3 linked regions of the Homo sapiens genome follow. Changing the gene in region 1 together with any one later gene gives a genetic interaction. Each region holds a gene or a part of one and is shown in the gene's direction. Other genes may lie near its edges. The genes, in order: GTF2E1, CACTIN and RBM22.

What was found.
Region 2: changes in GTF2E1 (region 1) and CACTIN together harm fitness less than expected from each alone (positive genetic interaction), as found in Homo sapiens cells (one large-scale study listed by BioGRID).
Region 3: changes in GTF2E1 (region 1) and RBM22 together harm fitness less than expected from each alone (positive genetic interaction), as found in Homo sapiens cells (one large-scale study listed by BioGRID).

Annotation. Positions count from the first base shown.
Region 1 is NC_000003.12:120,745,664-120,749,313, forward strand, and holds part of GTF2E1 (general transcription factor IIE subunit 1), read left to right. Parts: intron 1-3,650.
Region 2 is NC_000019.10:3,613,390-3,616,862, reverse strand, and holds part of CACTIN (splicing factor Cactin), read left to right. Parts: exon of another isoform or gene 1-2,267; intron 2,268-2,273; coding exon 2,274-2,466; coding exon of another isoform or gene 2,467-2,470; exon of another isoform or gene 2,471-2,477; intron 2,478-2,932; exon of another isoform or gene 2,933-3,276; coding exon 3,277-3,399; exon of another isoform or gene 3,400-3,473. UniProt on the Homo sapiens protein: Plays a role in pre-mRNA splicing by facilitating excision of a subset of introns. Required for the splicing of CDCA5/Sororin, a regulator of sister chromatid cohesion. Involved in the regulation of innate immune response.
Region 3 is NC_000005.10:150,694,413-150,698,062, reverse strand, and holds part of RBM22 (pre-mRNA-splicing factor RBM22), read left to right. Parts: intron 1-1,171; coding exon 1,172-1,272; intron 1,273-1,357; coding exon 1,358-1,530; intron 1,531-2,356; coding exon 2,357-2,557; intron 2,558-3,650. UniProt on the Homo sapiens protein: Required for pre-mRNA splicing as component of the activated spliceosome. Involved in the first step of pre-mRNA splicing.

The DNA of each region.
Region 1 (3,650 bases):
AGTAGGAAATAATCCTGGAAACAGGTTATGTTGACATTTTTCTGCTGTTCTTTGTTGAATGTTTCTGAAGCCATATGTTGTGTTCTGACAACTGTTGAGGATGTAAAACAACAAAAAATGAAAACGGGGTTCAAGTACAATGTATAGACCAAACCGAAAAGGAGAGAAAAGTGTGTCCAGTAGTATGCTGTGGTACTACTTTGGTGTCGAGCCCAGGTACTTCCCAGGCATCCTTAAGCCCTGGGGTAGCAGGAAGGCTCTAAGTTCACAGATTTGGATCTAGGTGCTACTTTGTTATATCTTACAATATGTAGTCATACCTGAGTATTTATAACCTAAAGTACGTATTTTCTTTTGACTGACTTTTACTTTTCCTTTATTACAGGAAGGGCCTTATATTTTCCCCCCAAAATATATGCATAGATTGGTTATAGATTGGTGTATAGAGTTTCCTTATAGTATGGTACTGTGGATATAAAAATATTTCTTATAAAAAGAGTATTAAATCTGTTGGGTTGATAACCACTGATTTCAAATAAAAGGGTTAGTTGAAACTAGTATTAATAACAGAATATGATTCTCCATTGAAATAGTTCAATGGGATGTCTCTCTTAAAAATTATCCTGTGGAGCCTGGCTAAGATGGTGAAACCCTGTCTCTACTAAAAATTCAAAAATTAGACAGGCGTGGTGGTGCATGCCTATAGTCCCAGCAACTCAGGAGGCTGAGGCAGGAGGATTGCTTGAACCTGTGAGGCAGAAGTTGCAGTGAGCCGAGCTTGCGCCACTGCACTCCAGCCTAGGTGACAGATCGAGACCCTGTCTCCAAAAAAAAAAAAAATTATCCTGTGGGCTGGGTGTGGTGGCTCACATCTGTAATCCCAGCACTTTAGGAAGCCCCCAAGGTAGGTGGATCCCTTGAGCCCAGAAGTTCGAGACCAGCCTGGGCAAAATGGTGAAACCCTGTCACTACAAAAAACACAAAAATTAGTCAGTCATGGTGGTGTCCACCCGTAGTCTCAGCTACTGGGGAGTTTGAGGTGGGAAGATTGCTTGAGCCCAGGAGGTTGAGACTGCACTGAGCCAAGTCACACCACCGAACTCTAGTCTGGACAACAGAGCAAGACACTCTCTCTATGAAAAGAAAAACAAATTCCCTGTGGCCTAGGGAAATTTAACTTGATTTAATCTGTGTGGATAGTCTAGCCATTTTTAGTTTGGAACATGTTAAGTTGATATGGAAGCTGTCCTTCCTAAGCACTTTAATTATATTCTTATTAATCACAACAACTCCACTGAGGTAGTTGATACTATCCTTACTTCTTAGCGAGTAAAAGGTGGCTTGAAATTGTTTAAGGGATTTGCTCAGGATTACACAGTTACCAAAACACAGGCTGTGTACTCTGAATTTCAAAGCCCAGTTTTGTGTTGTTTTGTTTTTTTGTTTTGTTTTTTTTTGAGACTGAGTTTCGCTCTTGTTGCCCAGGCTGGAGTGCAATGGTGTAATCTTGGCTCACAGCAACCTCCACCTCCCGAAGCCCAGGTTTTTATTTTATTTTATTTTATTTTTTATTTTTATTATTTTTATTTTATTATTATTATACTTTAAGTTTTAGGGTACATGTGCACAATGTGCAGGTTAGTTACATATGTATACATGTGCCATGTTGGTGTGCTGCACCCATTAACTCGTAATTTAACATTAGGTATATCTCCTAATGCTATCCCTCCCCGCTCCCTCCTCCCCACAATAGGCCCCAGTGTGTGATGTTCGCCTTCCTGTGTCCATGTGTTCTCATTGTTCAATTCCCACCTATGAGTGAGATATATGCGGTGTTTGGTTTTTTGTTCTTGCGATAGTTTACTGAGAATGATGGTTTCCAATTTCATCCATGTCCCTACAAAGGACATGAACTCATCCTTTTTTATGGCTGCATAGTATTCCATGGTGTATATGTGCCACATTTTTTAATCCAGTCTATCCTTGTTGGACATTTGGGTTGGTTCCCAGTCTTTGCTATTGTGAGTAGTCCCGCAGTAAACATACGTGTGCATGTGTCTCTATAACAGCATGATTTATAGTCCTTTGGGTATATACCCAGTAATGGGATGGCTGGGTCAAATGGTATTTCTAGTTCTAGATCCCTGAGGAATCGCCACACTGACTTCCACAAGGGTTGAACTAGTTTATAGTCCCAACAACAGTGTAAAAGTCTGTTCCTATTTCTCCACATCCTCTCCAGCACCTGTTGTTTCCTGACTTTTTAATGATTGCCATTCTAACTGGTGTGAGATGGTATCTCATTGTGGTTTTGATTTGCATTTCTCTGATGGCCAGTGATGGTGAGCATTTTTTCATGTGTTTTTTGGCTGCATAAATGTCTTCTTTTGAGAAGTGTCTGTTCATGTCCTTCGCCCACTTTTTGATGGGGTTGTTTGTTTTTTTCTTGTAAATTTGTTTGAGTTCGTTATAGATTCTGGTTATTAGCCCTTTGTCAGATGAAAAGGTTGCAAAAATTTTCTCCCATTCTGTAGGTTGCCTGTTCACTCTGATGGTAGTTTCTTTTGCTGTGCAGAAGCTCTTTAGTTTAATTAGATCCCATTTGTCAATTTTGGCTTTTGTTGCCATTGCTTTTGGTGTTTTAGACATGAAGTCCTTGCCCATGCCTATGTCCTGAATGGTAATGCCTAGGTTTTCTTCTAGGGTTTTTATGGTTTTAGGTCTAACATTTAAGTCTTTAACCCGTCTTGAATTAATTTTTGTAAAAGGTGTAAGGAAGGGATCCAGTTTCAGCTTTCTCCATGTGGCTAGCCAGTTTTCCCAGCACCATTTATTAAATAGGGAATCCTTTCCCCATTGCTTGTTTTTCTCAGGTTTGTCAAAGATCAGATAGTTGTAGATATGCAGCGTTATTTCTGAGGGCTCTGTTGTGTTCCATTGGTCTATATCTCTGTTTTGGTACCAGTACCATGCTGTTTTGGTTACTGTAGCCTTGTAGTATAGTTTGAAGTCAGGTAGCGTGATGCCTCCAGCTTTGTCCTTTTGGCTTAGGATTGACTTGGCAGTGTGGGCTCTTTTTTGGTTCCATATGAACTTTAAAGTAGTTTTTTCCAATTCTGTGAAGAAAGTCATTGGTAGCTTCATGGGGATGGCATTGAATCTATAAATTACCTTGGGCAGTATGGCCATTTTCACGATATTGATTCTTCCTACCCATGAGCATGGAATGTTCTTCCATTTGTTTGTATCCTCTTTAAGTTCATTGAGCAGTGGTTTGTAGTTGTCCTTGAAGAGGTCCTTCACATCCCTTGTAAGTTGGATTCCTAGGTATTTTATTCTCTTTGAAGCAATTGTGAATGGGAGTTCACTCATGATTTGGCTCTCTTTTTGTCTGTTATTGGTGTATAAGAATGCTTGTGATTTTTGTACATTGATTTTGTGTCCTGAGACTTTTTGCTGAAGTTGCTTATCAGTTTAAGGAGATTTTGGGCTGAGACAATGGGGTTTTCTAGATATACAATCATGTCATCTGCAAACAGAGACAATTTGACTTCCTCTTTTCCTAATTGAATACCCTTTATTTCCTTCTCCTGCCTGATTGCCCTGGCCAGAACTTCCAACACTATGTTGAATAGGAGTGGTAAGAGAGG
Region 2 (3,473 bases), on another chromosome or scaffold:
AGTGAGCCACTGTGCCCAGCCACTTCTGAAAATTTTTTGTAGAGATGGGGTCTCACTGTGTTGCCCAGGCTAGTCTTGAACTCCTGGCCTCAAGCAATCCTCCTGCCTCACCTCCAGAAGGGCTAGGATTAAAGGCATGAGTGACTGCATGCTTTTTCTTTTTAATTTTTACAAAATTAAAGTTTTTTTATTATTTCTGTAGGTTATTGGGGAACAGGTGGTGTTTGGTTACATGAATAAGTTTTTTTGTTTTTTGAGACGGTGTCTTGCTCTCTTGCCAGGCTGGAGTGCAGTGGTGTGTTCTCAGGTCACTGCAACCTCTGCCTCCTGGGTTCAAGCAATTCCCCTGCCTCAGCCTCCCAAGTAGCTGGGATTACAGGCACCTACCACCACACCTGGCTAATTTTTTGTATTTTAGTAGAGACAGGGTTTCACGATGTTGGCCAAGATGGTCTTGATCTCCTGACCTCGTGATCCACCCACCTCAGCCTCCAAAAGTGCTGGGATTACAGGCGTGAGCCATCGTGCCCGGCCGTTTACATGAATAAGTTCTTTAGTGGTGACTTGTGAGATTTTGGTGCACCTAGCTTTTTCTAGGAAGTTCTAACCCTACAGGAGGTTGTGCAGTAGAAAACGGGTGTCATCCCAGCTCAGCTTCATTAGCCTCCCACCCTGTGTAGGGCCTGGCCTTTCCCCCACGCAGCCCCAGGGCCCTTGGCCTGCACCCCCAGCCTCTAGCAGCTGCTGGGACCCCCTAAACCCCCGGGCCCCCTTGTGGGCATTCGGGAGGCATCCAGACATGCAGCAGCATGTCCAGACCCGGCTTTCTATAGACGCTGACCTGGCGGCACCTGGCCTGGCTTCCTGGGAGCCTCGCGGCTGGGCTCTTCTGCTTGGGTTTCAGTGTTCGTGGTAGCCCCGCCTGTCTGGGCACGGCCGCGCTGTGCTTGGCTGGGGCTGCCACGGATTCCAGTGCCACTTAGCGCCCAGCAAAGGGGCTGCAGCTCTGGGTGCCGATTCCAGGGTCCCAGGTGATTGGCTGGAGGGGACTCGGGTCCGTCTAGACTCTATCCAGTCCCCTGTGGTGTAGGTGTGGGCCTCTTGACCCTCTGTCCGCCAGCGGGGACTGGAGAAGGCAGGTCTCGAGCAGGGTGCCTGCACTGGTCACCCCCGCCCAGTGTGTCACCAGCAGCTATGCACCAAGCTCCCTGTGGGCCCAGCATGGCACAGGGAACAGCAGCAGCCAGCCCCATTGCCCGCCTCGGGAAGCTGCCATCGCTGGATGGTCAGGGAGGGCTTCCTGGCGGAAGGGATGTTCTCACTGAGCATGGAGGATGCGAGGAATTCAGGAAGCGAATGGGACAGAGAAGGATGGGTAGCTGGCAGGAAGCACAGTGCGTGCAAAGGCCCAGAGGTGGCAGGGGTTCGGCATGGGCAGCAAGGGGCAGGGTTGCGAGGTGAGGCCAGACCCAGCGGGGTGGGTGGAAGTGGCCTGAGAGCAGCACTGAGGCCGCCGGGATGCCACGTGGTGTGGGGCAGAGCACGCGGAGTCAGGCTAGGCTCCAGCCTCCCAGCACCCCACTCCCGCCCTCAGCAGCCTCCCCGTCTATCGAGGAGGGACTTGAGCCTCGGGCCCCTGGGCCAGTGGTAGATGCCAGACAGACTCCATGTAGGATGGGGGGCGGCGGTGGGGAGCTGTTTGTCCTGGGGCGGGCCCAGGACTTCCCCAGGGGCCAGCAGGGTGGCCTTCTTTGCTAGGCTTCACAGAGGGAAACTAAGGCCCAGAAAGGGCAGGCCACTTGCCCACAGTCACACAGCCCAGGCTGGCAGAGAAGATCTGAATTCCAGAGAGCCTGGCTACCGAGCACACCCCCCAACCCCCTCATGGACTGCCCAAGGCCAGGGCAGAGTTGGGCCAGGTTGGTGGGCCGGGCCCACAACTAGGGTTCCCAGACCCACATATCAGACTCACCTGGGGAGGGGCATTCTCAGGGCCAGTCCTGGCCTCCCCCACGCTGGGGGCCTGGGCCTCCAGGTCAAGGCCTCAGCAACTGCATCTTAACGTGGCTCCCAACCTCCGCCCACCCCCTCCCCTCCGCTGTGGCCAGGGTGGGGACAACCTGAGACCAGGGAGGTGGCGGGACTGGATGGGACCCCTGTGGGGGAAGAGGAGGGGAGGGGGACCCCCCCATGGCAGGGGAGGAGGCCCTGATGGGGTGGAGGAGCACGTAGGAAATGTGGAACCGCCCCCCCATGCCCCCACCCCGCTGCAGGTGAGCGCCGCGAGGGGGTCAACGCCTCCGTCAGCTCTGATGTGCAGTCGGTGTTCAAGGGGAAGACATACAACCAGCTGCAGGTCATCTTCCAGGGCATCGAGGGCAAAATCCGCGCTGGTGGCCCCAACCTGGACATGGGCTACTGGGAGAGCCTCCTGCAGCAGCTTCGTGCCCACATGGCACGGGCCCGGTGAGCACTAGGTGCGGGTACCAGGGTTGGTGCCGTCCGGGTGGGATGGGTTTCGCCCCCTCCTGAGTCCTGGGTGGGGTGGGTCTCGCCTCCTCCTGGGACCATGTGGGGTGGAGAGGGGCAGGAAAGTGCCGACTGGCCGGGGCCAGCCTGTGAGTGACGAAGGGGGGCCGGGGGGCGCGTAGTCCCGTGCCCTAGCGGGAAGGCCCCAGGATGCTCCAGTGCCCTCACCTGGAGTCAGCCCTGTTGGTCTCACAGGGCTCCCCAGGAGCTTCCGCCCTTTAACGAGTACCTGGCGCGCTCCAGCAGCCATGGCATCACAGGAAGCCCCCAGGCGGCCTGCCTGTCCCCACTGCCTTGCGCCCAGGCCTGCGCCCTCCCAGCGCTGCTGCCTCCCGGCCTCTGGCTGTGTACAGATTTCTGGAGTGTTTTTGGCACCGCTGTGTAAATACATGTCTCCTCTGCTAATTTGTAAATGTCTCTAAATTTATCATGCTTGTTGGCTGGTGTCCTGCTGGGCCCCTTCTCCTGGCCAGCCCCAGCCACAAGACACTGAGACTGCAGCGTGAGACAGAGACCCACCTCTCCCTGCCATGGGATGGTTCACCAGGGTACCTGCGTCCTCTCGTCCTCTCTCCCATAAGCCTTGACCCTGAACTGACCAAGCCTGGGCAAAGGTCCCAGCCAGAGCCGTGGCTGCTCGCCACCTTCTCAGGGTCCTTGCAGCAATAAGGGGCGTGAGAATCTCGGTGGGGGTGGGGCGCGGAGCCCCTTCGCCTCCATGCGGGTGACCCCGGCTCTGCGTCCCAGGCTGCGTGAGCGCCACCAGGACGTGCTGCGGCAGAAGCTGTACAAACTGAAGCAGGAGCAGGGCGTGGAGAGCGAGCCGCTGTTCCCCATCCTCAAGCAGGAGCCCCAGTCCCCCAGCCGCAGGTAGGCCCGGCCGGCACCCCGGGGACGCCGATGCAGACGCGGAGCAGGATGGAGGGGCCGTGGGCAGCCTCCGC
Region 3 (3,650 bases), on another chromosome or scaffold:
GCAACTTCGAACTCCTGGGCTCAAGGGATCCTCTTGCCTCTGCCTCCTGGTATACCACCACACCCAGTGCACGTGTGTGTGTGTGTCACTATTTTGCCCAGGCTGGTTTTGAGCTTCTGGCCTCAAGCAGTCCTCCCACCTTGGCCTCCCAGAGCCACTATAGCCAGCCTAATTGTGCTTTAGACTTTTATTTCAATTGTGTTGTTAGAACTGATATATTGCTACTGTTTCAGAGTAACTGCTTTTGGGAGTAATTTTTTTTTTAACCATAGGTGACTGTTTTTCAGAAAGATAATTTTTCAACAAGAGTTTTTACTATTAAAGGAAAGGGAAAAATATATGAGTTTATGTATGTTAAGTTCATTAGAGTTACTCTTCTAGTCAGAGTCCTGGCCACATTTTATGTAATATTATTTATATGTTTGTTAAGGAGGCGTCTGGTCCTGGAGTACAGTGACCCTTAGATGACTGTGACTATCCAGAGGATCTGTAAGACTAACCTAGAAAGAAACCACTTTTACATTTACTTTAAATAAATCATGTTGTAATAAAAACTAGGAGCTAATTTACAGGTTGAATATGACCATGGGCACAGTTTGTTCATCTAAAAATTTTCTTTTATAATTTTTTTGTTTTTTGTTTTTGAGACAGGGTGTCACTCTGTTGCCCAGGCTGGAGTGCAGTGGCATGGTCATGGCTCACTGCAGCCTTAACCTTTCCAAGCTCAGGTGATCCACCTCAGCCTCCTGGGTAGCTAGGACTACAGGTGCATACCACCACACCCAGCTAATTTTTGTATTTTTTGTAGAAATGGGGTTTCACCACGTTGACCAGGCTGGTCTCGAACTCCTGGACTCAAGCTATCTGTCAGCTCCAGCCTTGCAAAGTGCTAGGATTACAGGCATGAGCCACCACACCCAGCCTAAAAGATTTTTTCTAAAGCATTAATTTCATCAAATTTCCTGACAGTTCAGGAATTTGGACAATTTCTTAGCATGCTGTGTAGCAGAAGTAACCTGATGGTGCTAAAGAGTTTGAATAAAAACATAGTAAAGTCTCTGGTACTAAATAGGAAAGAGGAGAAGGGAAAGATGATGTATTCTGTGTGCATGGTTAGTATGGATATGTTTTAAAATACATCTGAGGTCTTTTTCCTCTTTTTTTGTACCAGGCCTGCCCATCCAGGTTCGTGACGCAGGATTGTCTTTTAAAGATGACATGCCAAAGTCAGATGTCAACAAAGAGTACTATACACAGAATATGGAGAGAGAGGTATGCTGCCACTTTTTGGATAAAAATCCTAATGAATTGACACAGTCTGTATAATTTATCTTTTGAATTTGTCATCCCCACTTAGATTTCTAACTCTGATGGAACACGGCCAGTTGGCATGCTGGGGAAAGCCACATCTACCAGTGACATGCTGCTCAAACTGGCCCGGACCACACCCTACTACAAAAGGAATCGACCCCACATTTGCTCCTTCTGGGTGAAAGGAGAGTGTAAGAGAGGAGAGGAATGTCCATACAGGCAAGAGCGAGCCTCATTTTCAGTATTTGCTTTCAGATGATTTCTCATCTAAGAAGTGGGAGGTCCTAACTTAAACTGTTTCTGCTTTAAAATCTAAAGGTCATACAACTAATGTGGTATACCTCATGTCTTAGAACTATGAAATTTAGAAGAGCATGAATAAATTGTAGTTTTTACTTACAATTGAGCCTTGGAAACTAAATTGCTATGCCATACAATATAGATGCTGACCCTAAACATTTCTGCCTGAGAAGTAAATCTTCACTGCCATGGTTTAAATGAGTTGACTCTCAATGTATAGTTGAAGTCAAAGTAAGGTCAGACTTCTAAAGGGTGTGTATGTTTTGGTTAAGACTGCCAAGCATCTGGATTAGGAGTTCTTAATTTGGGATTGGTTAACCCCACCCCCTAAAAAATAATGTATGTGCTTTCTCTGGGGCGAGGTTCATAGCTTTAATCAGATTCTCAGTGGAATACAGCACCCCAAATGTGTTAAGAATCATTGACCTAGAGAGGGGTAATCATGTGTCCCTTTCTGGGGGGCGGGAGGGGGTGGATCATGTCAAGAGTATTTATTTATAAGGAAAGTTTGGCATCCTAGATGGCCTAATGGCTTTTAGGAGGCTAGTAATTCCTTCCGTGATACAGTAAATCTCTTGGTATTAGGTCTATTTTGGTAATTATATTTTGGTAGAAACCATAGTTTCTAGTTCAAAAGGCACTTCAGAATATGTATCTAGGACTTTAATATGTAGCTACTCTTGGAAGATAATCATTTTTTCACCTTCGTTTCACCTTTATGCCTTGTTTTTTTCTTGAATCATAGACATGAGAAGCCTACAGATCCAGATGACCCCCTTGCTGATCAGAATATTAAAGACCGTTATTACGGAATCAATGATCCTGTAGCTGACAAGCTTCTAAAGCGGGCTTCAACAATGCCTCGGCTGGACCCACCAGAGGATAAAACTATCACCACACTATATGTTGGTGGTCTAGGTGATACCATTACTGAGACAGATTTAAGGTTTGTGGGTATAAGTTAGAGAGTTATTTTTGCCTTTAACTGCCCTGGAATAATTTATTTGCAAAAACTGCAAGAATGATCATTCTGTACAAAATACATTTTTCTGTAGTCTCTCTATTGTTAGTATCATGCTGACTGGAATTTTTGTAAAATTGTCCTTTATGGTGCCACAGTAATAATGTGCTTATGTGGCTGGGCACAGTGCCTCATGCCTGTAATCTCAACACTTTGGGAGGATCTCTTGAACCGAGGAGTTTGAGACCAGCCTGAGCAACATAGTGAGACCACATCTCTACTAAGAAATCAAAAAAATTAGCCGGGTGTGGTGGCATGTGCCTGTAGTCCCAGCTGTTTGGGAGGCTGAGGCAGGAGGATTGCTTGAGCTTGGGAGATCAAGGCTGCAGTGAGCTGTGATTGCACCACTGCACTCCAGCCTAAGCAACAGAGTGAGACCCTGTCTCAGAACCAAAGCTCAAAGAGTGCTTATCCATCCTGGCATATGGTAATAATGACATAGGATTCTATTTGACCTAACAGCCAAGTTTTAAAGGATGGCACGCATCCAAGTATGATGAATTATGTAGAGGAGGGAGAGCTTTGCGATGATAAAACTCTTGTGGTTTAAATTGTTGGTTTTTAAAGAGACTGGCATTTGATAAATTTGTGTTATTTTTGGCTTGTATTATGCTTGGCTAGATGAGACTTCTGGGCAGATAGTAATGGAAATTACCTCTTCCAAAGAGATAAAGTGGAGAAGAAACTCCTGTAAGTTTATAACCTGCCCTTGGTAGCCTGTCTCCATTAAACCCTATCTAAGTGAGCTAGACAACCCCCAGGGGTTGGCAGACTTTCGCTGTAAGAGGCTGGATGGTGAATATTTTAGGCATTGTGGGCCACATGCAGTCTCTGTCACGTATTCTTGTTTTAAACTTTCTTGGCTCATGGGCCTTGAGAGCTATGGTTTGCCAACCTCTTATCTAGGGTTTAGGGTCTTTAAAGAACCTATTAGAACCCCCTTTCCTCCATGGGAAAAAACCCTGAGATGTTTGAGAACCTTTATTTACTCATTATTTTTCTTTCCTTCTCTCAATCA